Regions from separate parts of the Homo sapiens genome. Here region 1 is linked to region 2. Evidence: fine-mapped expression QTL. A gene starts in region 2. The other region holds a variant in brackets. All regions are shown on one strand. Distances are from middle to middle.

Region 1 (4,388 bases), 200 kb after region 2:
AAATCCAAAAAATTAGCTGGGTGTAGTGGTGGACGCCTGTAGTCCCAGCTACTTGGGAGGCTGAGGCAGGAGAATGGCATGAACCCGGGAGGCGGAGCTTGCAGTGAGCCGAGATCGCGCCACTACACTCCAGCCTGGGCAACAGAGCGAGACTCTGTCTCAAAAAATATATATATATTGGCCTGCCATTAAATATATATATATTTATATTTATATTTATATATAATATATATATTTATATATAAATATATATATATATCTCTTTAAAGGGTAGCCATTTTTCTTCAGTTAATAATGTAAAAAAGACTGCATTAACATGCTTAAAATCCCCAGATCCTCAATTCTTTAGGGATGTACTAAATAAATGGCTGATATCATGGTTACGAAAGTATCCTGACCTTGGCTGGGCACAGTGGCTCACACCTGTAATCTCAGCACTTTGGGAGACCTGGGGCGGGTAGATCACTTGAGGCCAGGAGTCCAAGACTAGCCTGGCCAACATGGTGAAACCCCGTCTCTACTAAAAATATAGAAAAATTAGCTGAATGTGATGGCATGTGCCTGTAATCCCAGCTACTCAGGTGGGTGAAGCTTGAGAACCGCTTGAACCTGGGAGGTGGAAGTTGCAGTGAGCCAAGATCATGCCACTGGGTGACAGAGCAAGCCTGTTTCAAAAAAAAAAAAAAAGGTGTCTTGACCTTGAGGGAGCTTACGTTGAGAAATAAAGTTTATATCTTTTAATTTTATCTTTTAATTCCATTTTTCTATGAACTTTCCGAAGTTCTCTTGTATGCACTGGCAACTGTGCTAAACACTTGGTCTGCTTAATTTCATCCTCACAGTAATCCCATGAGATAGGTAGTGTTATTCCCATTTTTTAAATGAGGAAACAGACTCAGCAAGATGAAGTTTCCCAAAGTCTCTCAACTAGAAAGATGAGGCCTCAAGCCTCAAACCCACCCTGTTCGAATTGTCTAACTCTCCAGAAAACACACTATTAACAACTATTATATTGCTACTCAAGAAGGGGGAGTATTAGCAATTACTACCATGTATTGGGCTAGAGCACTGTGCTAAGTGCTTTACATGCTTTCCCTCCCTCAGTCCTCACAATGAGCCTGTGAGGCTGTGATTATTGCTTCCATTGTACATATTGTAAACTGAGACCCAGAGGAGCTAGGGCTTAAACTCAAGTAGGTCTTACTTCAAGGCCAGTGGCCTGGGACAATGGACTGGTACAGCTCGTTCAGGCTCTGGGGCTCTGCTTCCCTGGGTGAAGCTGTGCTCTGGCTGATGAGATCACAGACAGGGAGGGGATGAATGAAGGCTTTCCTGTGGACCTGGTGCCAAGACAAAACAGTCCTATCCCAAGAGGAAAAAAATTAATAAGGGCTGCGGCTCTCTCCCTGCCTCCTGGCTGAGGTGCTGGGAAACGCACTGAGTCATCTAATGGCAGGCCAGGCCCCTCGGAAAATGTTGGCATCATCTTCCAAGCTGCCACCCCTCCCACGCGGCCTGGACCCAAAACTGGTGTTTGTCAGGACTGGACTATTGGCCTTATCTTAATGAACGGGCTTTGCCTGGCAGGATTCTAAGAGGTGCCGAAGGGCCCAAACTGATGTAATTCCTTCCCCCTTGTGGTTGAGCTTTCTCCCTGGGAGATGGGCCCAGGGGCTGGGCATGGCAATTAACCATCAGCAACCTTTGCCCCAGCCCCTGCTTCCAATATACCAAATCCAGAAAAAATAAAGTGGAAAGGAAGATGGAAATCAGCCCCGAAAGGGAACAGAAGTTATAAAACCAGCCCTTGTGGTGGTAAAAAAGGTGAGTGAGGGCTGCCCTACCCTCTGCCTTTATAAATCATTAGGAAGGGGTTTGCC[G/A]AGGCATGGGTCCCAGTACAAGGTCTTTCTTGGATTGAGCCAAAGAGGTTAATGTCACAGTCCCTGAGAGCATGCATGAGGATCCCAACATCTCTCCTGTCACAAACTCTGAGATTCAGGAAACAGAGGCCAGATTCCACCACTGGGAAGGGTGGAGGTTGACCGGCTACCCTAAGAGAGATCTGGGTACAAGCCCGAACCCTAGCTAGTAAAGATGCTGGACTTCGGCCACATCACACACTCACAGAAGGTGATATGTAATGCACACAGGCCCACTGTGGAAATTCTGACGAGATGGGGCATACTTAACTCTACTGAATCAGGTGAGCAAGACATCTCAAAATCAGCTTCAACCTAATCTCTCTCTATTCCTTTGGCCAGCATTTTTTGCTAATCTCTAAGGGTATAGATCTAGCTGGGCAAGGGACACCCACTGACTGGCCAGTTGCTAATGGTCTGGCAGATATGTCCACCAGATGTCCCACCACCACCTCCAGCTCTACATGCCGAAACCCCAAACAGATTTTCCTTTGCCCCAACAGAAATTTCCAAAACAATTTTCATGTTTCTGCCAATGGTGCCATCATTCCAGTCAGTGAAGCACAAGGCACTCATCAAATCCCCCTAATCATTTCCCTCCCCAGCTTGCATCTCACGCATGTGGTCACCAAAGCCCAAAGACTTTCCCTTCCTAAACTCAAGTAAATCTAGTCATATTTCAGTACTTTCTTCCCACATCGCCCATAATCCAAAGTTTCTTATTTGTCTGTCCCTCTCTCCCCAAACTTCTCTCCCTCGAATTTCTTCTTGTTTCAGCCCAGCAGTCCACACATAACCATAAGAATAATCTTTCTAAAATCTCACTGTATGCAGAGCATCCCTGCCTCCAAAACTTGTTTTGGCATCTTGTTACCTTTGTGATAAGGAACAAAGTAGTCTCATACTCAAGGCCTTCCCAAAGCAACTCCAGCCCACTTCTACGGTCTATATCCTATGGATCACCTCTCTAGGTCTGGCCAGACCCACCAGCATGGTCCCCCAAATAGATGATTCCCTTCCTCTATGGGCCTATCTTGTTGACTTCCCCTGCCCTTTACACTGCAGCTGCTGCCTAGGCTTGGCCAACCCACCTTCTCCTCTGCCTTTTGAAGTCTCACTCATATGCTAGCTCCTCCAGGAAGCCTTCCCTGATACTCAAAGTCCCAAAGTGAGCACTCCTTCCTCTGAGCTCACATGGAGCTCTACACAGTTCACAAGAGACTTATTAAACATGGCCTTTTGGTTACAGAGATGTCCAATCTCCCCCAAGAAACCAAAACTCACTGAGTGTAGGGACAGTGTTGATTGTCTTAATATATCCCCAGCAACAGGCACTTAGCAAACACTCATTTAATATGCTTCAACGAAAGTGAAAGAATGAACCAATGGTCTGGTGGCTATAACTTCAAAGGCAAGACTGACAGAACATTCTGGAAAATACCCCAAATCCTGAAAAAAGTCACCATAGACAGAGATTTTCGCTGGTATGAAAGGCTGAACTTAGATGATATAGGTTACAAAGGAACTAAGATTTGGGTCATAGGCAACTATGCCTTTTCTCTAGCCTAAATCTTAAACCCAGGCCATAGCGTCTATAATCCCTAATGCAATATCCTTTGCTTTTGTAATTAAATAATATTAATAATAATGTGTTTTTAAAATCTTAAAAATAGGCCGGGCGCGGTGGCTCATGCCTGTAATCCCAGCACTTTGGGAGGCCAAGGCAGGCAGATCACAAGGTCAGGAGATCGAGACCATCTTGGCTAACACGGTGAAACCCCGTCTCTACTAAAAATACAAAAAATTAGCCGGGCGTGGTGGCAGGAGCCCGTAGTCCCAGCTACTCGGGAGGCTGAGGCAGGAGAATGGTGTGAACCTGGGAGGCGGAGCTTGCAGTGAGCCGAGATCATGCCACTGCAGTCTGGCCTGGGTGAAAGAGACTCCATCTCAAAAAAACAAAAATCTTAAAAATATACACTTGGGGCCAGGCATGGGGGCTCACACCTATAATCCCAGCACTTTGGGAGGCCAGGGTGGTCAGATCACGAGGTCAGGAGTTCGAGACCAGCCTGGCCAGTATGGTGAAACCCCATGTCTACTAAAAATACAAAAAGTAGCCGGGTGTGGTGGCACATGCCTGTAATCCCAGCTACTCGGGAGGCTGAGGCAGGAGAATTGCTTGAACCTGGGAGGCGGAGGTTGCAGTGAGCCAAGGTCACACCACTACACTCCAGCCTGGGCAACAGAATGAGACTCTGTCTCGGAAAAAAAAAAAAAAAAAATACACACACACACACACACACACACACACACACACACACCACACACACTTGAGCCTTGAGGCGAGAAGTGGTTTTATATAGAGAGAAAAGTCTTTCATTCATTAGCAAGGAGTTTAGTGCCTGCTGAGGACCAGGCACTGTTCTAAGCCATGGATATCCCACCACAACTTTAAAAAGCACCCCCAAC
Region 2 (4,388 bases):
TATCTGCTTCTAAATCCTGTGCTTTCTTCATCAAGATGGCAGCAAATTCTGGGATGAAGCTACATGGTTGGAACTGGAGTCAGAGGAGGCTGCCTGGGATGGATGATAGATATATAGTGGGGCTAGGTGTTGGGAGAAAAAGAAAGGAAAGAAAGAGATTGCAAGAGTGGTTCCATTCACAAAGAAGTTGGGAAGAGAGAGTTTGAGTAGTGGGAAAGGGTGATAGAAGAAAATAGGTTTGGTACCTTCTGCTTTTGCAGTCCCCCTCTCATCCAGGCAGTTGGACATGTAGGGCCCAAGTGCCAAAGAGCCACCAGGGGGAAAGATACATTTGGGGATATTCTCTTTATTATTAATTTCTCATCAAGACTAATGTCTTTATGGTATTTCCTTCTGGTGAACTTCCTGCCCTCCTCTTCTGATGGTCCATTGAGTTTGTGTTAAAATTATGTGAAAGTTGGCCGGGCACGGTGGCTCATGCCTGTAATCCCAGCATTTTCAGGGGCCGGGTCGGGCGGATCACGAGGTCAAGAGATCGAGGCCAACATCCTGGCCAACATGGTGAAACCCTCTCTCTACTAAAAATACAAAAATTAGCTGGCCGTGGTGGCGCGCGCCTGTAGTCCCAGTTACTAGGGAGGCTGAGGCAGGAGAATCACTTGAACCCGGGAGGCGAAGATTGCAGTGAGCTGAGAACATGCCAGTTCACTCCAGCCTGGTAACAGAGCGAGACTCCATCTCAAAGAAACAAACAAAACAAAACAAAAAAATATATATACACACACATATATATACATATATACATATATATACACATATATATGCAAAAGTTTTTGAATTATGAGAAACTACTGACTCTGTGGCTTACAGTGTTATTCGCGAGTGGATGCACTAAGCATAGAACATTGCACTGAGAAATGACTTCGGTGGCTGACAAAGTGGAGACTCAGGCCTCAGAGAGGGAGTCTTTGGTCTTCTCTAAACACATTTTAAAATTCATTAGAGGAATATCATTCATATATTTTGGAAAGTTAATTTGTACTCCATGTGCAGACTGCATTAGAAGGACAGACCTCTTCACAGAGCCAAGTCACAAGACACCTGGACACGGGGTAGTACCCCAGCAGGCAGGTGGGGGTGGGGGACCAGATGCAGCAGGACAAAGGACAAAACAGAGCCTGGTTCGGACTTCCCCAGGAAGGACTCTGCACTCAGCTGCCTTCCAGCCTCTTCTGAATTCCACCAACCCTTCCTTAGGACTTCCTGCCTTGTTTTTTGCTTAATTCACTTTTTGCCAGACTAGACGTTTCCTAGGCTTAGGCAAACACATCATTATCACATGTATTAAAATGCTCCCATAGCCTACATTAATAACTGATTAATAACTGCATCTTGCTGTGAATTTTTATGATCTTGACTTTCAGGTTTTGTATGAATAATTCATTTTGTTCATGTGATTTAGACTTTATTATATTTATATATAATTATGCAAGAGTTTTGTTGCAGTTGCCTAGATTCTGCAGACATTTCATTAAATTTTATTTACTTTGATTTTTCCAGTTTCCTTTCGTTATTTTGGGGCCACTGTTTTTCAGTCTCCAACGTTTTCATAAGCCCTAGGGGATATGACAGCGCTACAGGAATCCAGCCTTATATTCTTAAGAACCTCTCATAGCCCTTCACGTAGGGAGCTCTGATGAATGAATGAAGGAGCGACTGAACGAGTGAATGAATGAGGTGAATAAAGTTTCTTCCAAGTTTTCTCTCCAAGGTCGGTTCTCTTCTCATTCTTCTGGAATCTCAGCCTTGCCTGGAGGCTGGGCAGGAGAGCCTCTCACCCCGCTAACACCAAAACTGCGACCTTGGAGGACCGTGTCCTGCGCCTGGCGCTCGGCCGATCCCGGCAGAGTCCGCCTGGGGCCGGGGTCGGGACAGTGGCCGCAGCGTGGAGCGCAGCCGGGTCCCGGGCCAAACCCTGTGCGCATGGGCGGAGCAGCGCCCTCCCCCGCGTTCCTTCCCCCACTGCAGGTGAGTCGCAGCGCCGCGGCCCCAACCCCGCGCAGCCCCGGGGGTGACGTCAGGACTCTGGACCGCGCTCCGCCCCGCCCCTGCAGGCAACGCTGAGGGCCCGCGACTCCGCGGTGGAACCCCGTCCCGCTGCGGTACATGCCGGCTGCCGCAAGCACAGGGGGCGACCGGGCGCTCGAATGTGCTGCGGCTGCGGCGGCTGCCTGACGCTAGGACGAGGAGTCTGCAGTCAGAGCGCCAGCCTCCTGCCGCGGCCCACCTGCCCCGCGGCCCGCACAGCCAATGTCAGCGCAGCGCGCCGGCCGCCGCGGGGCCCGCACCCGCAGCCTCGCGGGATCGCCGGGCGTTCAGCCAGCCTCAGCTGTCCATCTACGCACGAGCCAGCCAATCCCGCGCCACTGCCCCGGCCGCACCTCCCGGAGCCTATGACGGGCGTAAGAGCCAGCCCATGAGATTGGGGCCTCTGTGGCCTGGGCTGGGAGCGGGAGCCAATGAGCGTCATTCCAGGTGGGTGGAGGGAGCCGGACTCGGGAAGGTAGCTTCGTTCGGGTTGCTAACGTCTTCCCTTGGAGATGGGCGCGCAAACCAACCAGTGGGTCTGGGGGCGGCGGTGATGGGCGTGGAGCTGGCCCAATGAGGGTAGGGGTGGGTGGGGCAGCCCCGAGCAGCAGTGCTAAAGGAGCCCGGCGGAGGCAGCGGTGGGTTTGGGACTGAGGCGCTGGATCTGTGGTCGCGGCTGGGGACGTGCGCCCGCGCCACCATCTTCGGCTGAAGGTGAGAGGTGCGGCTACCCGGGTCCGAGTGCACGGCCCAGGGCTGGGGGACAGTTTGTGGAGGGAGGAATGGCTCCTGGGCTGAGGGGTCCCGGGCGGCTCTGGAGGACAGGAACGGGGGACCGAAGCGGGAGCTGGGGAAGACAGAGGGGCTTCTGAGCTGTAGGGTTTGTGCTGCGGGGACCTTAGGTTAGTTTGAGCAGGGTCCTGGGCTGGGGGCACTGGGACCTCAGTGGGTGGAGATGGAGAGACTCCCGGAGGAGCGGGGAATGAAGTCCTTGTGAAACCCGCGGGGGTCAGGGCCTGGGTGTGCAGGAGGGCGACCCCTGGGGGGCTGGGGGATGGAGATCTGGGGGTGGGGACGTGAGGACCAGGTTCTCGGTGGGTGGGATCCCTGGGGGCGCGAGGTCGAGGGGCTAGTGTCCCGGCGGAGGTCTCGGCGTGCCCCGCGAGCCAGTGTCTGCCTCCCAGGAAGAGAGGGGATTCTAAGCGGGGCTGGAAAGCGCAGTCCCGGCGGTAGGGTGGGGGGGCGCTGGGCAGGAAGGGCCCCTGCGTGGGTTGCTGGGTGGGTTAGGCCTGGCGCGACCGGTCCCCCGCAGCACCAGAGGGGTTCACCATGGGCTTGGAAGGCGGGCGGCGCGCGCCCGACCCGTGGGTGGAGGGACAGGAGGGCATTGGCTCTGCGCGGCCGGGGAAGCGCGCGGCGGGTGAGGGGCTCCGGAGCCGGCCGCGGGCGTGGGGAGGGTCGGACTCCGCCGGCGCCGGGGAAGGAGCGCGGGAGGAGGGCGTCCTGCCGCGCCCTCCGTGGAGCGCCTAGGCCGGGGGTGGACGCCCTGCGAGGCCCAGGCGGTTTGAGGGGGCGAGGCGGGAAATGTGGCGGGGCGCGCTGCAGCAGGACGGCCGGGGGGAGGGTCAGCACTCGCCTCGGGATCCCTTTATTGTGTAAGCGAGCTGGGAATGGCTCGCCGCAGTCTCTTCATTGCCTTCTGCAGTTGGGGGTCACACCCTGATCCCATAAAATCGGACTGGAATTGGTTCGGAGGGAAGTTGAAGCCGCGGAGTCCTGGCATTTGTGGGGGCTTTGTGGGCCTGTGGTGGGCGGATGCGGCCCTGGGAAGCGGGAGGCCCCCAGCCAGGCCTGTTTGGAACTAGGGCCTTAGGAAGGAGGTTGGCGACTCGGCGGGTCAGACCGGGCTGGTGAGGTTTGGATAACGTGGCCTCTGCCTACAGCCGTTATCTCTGTTTCTTTAGGGCCTCTGCAGCTCCCTTCAAGATCACTGCGGTGGATGGAAGGGGGTGGGGTGGGCTGGGGTGGGGTAGGGGAAAGCAGGCGGGGTAGATGCAGACTGCAGATGAAACAAAGACTGCTGTTTTCGCTGAATAATGTAATACCAAACATAATACTTTGGCTTTGCTGAGATTTTGTTTTTTAACGTTGAAACTGAGGATTCTTTGAGTCAGGTTTAATTATTCTTGATAGTATCTCACTCTGGAAAACTTTATAATCTATTTATTGTTTTATCTCCTTCATCAATCTGCCTTTATTAATTATTCTTTGAGTCCCTTGCTTTTGATGTTTAAGTATGC

Which allele goes with the higher level. Positions count from the first base shown, and alleles are read on the strand shown. Sizes are in standard deviations (SD) of each study's normalised expression.
As copies of G replace A in region 1, the expression in sigmoid colon of the gene that starts at base 2,731 in region 2 goes up (small effect, 0.29 SD a copy in GTEx).

Evidence for each region. PIP is the estimated chance that this variant, and not a neighbour inherited with it, causes the effect.
Region 1: its variant is the best candidate, but not a certain one, in a credible set for the expression of MYH10 in sigmoid colon (GTEx, PIP 0.79).

Annotation. Positions count from the first base shown.
Region 1 is chr17:8,428,176-8,432,563 of GRCh38, reverse strand. It overlaps a transcript of NDEL1 not described here. Among named protein-coding and RNA genes, the nearest start is that of NDEL1, 5.5 kb to the left of the region's middle. The variant G/A (reference allele first, on the strand shown) is at 1,881.
Region 2 is chr17:8,629,068-8,633,455 of GRCh38, reverse strand. MYH10 (myosin heavy chain 10) reads left to right here and starts at 2,731. Exons shown (of 43, transcript NM_001256012.3): 1 at 2,731-2,802. RefSeq lists enhancers at 1,031-1,325, 2,024-2,801, 2,802-3,579, 3,580-4,358 and a silencer at 1,860-2,539.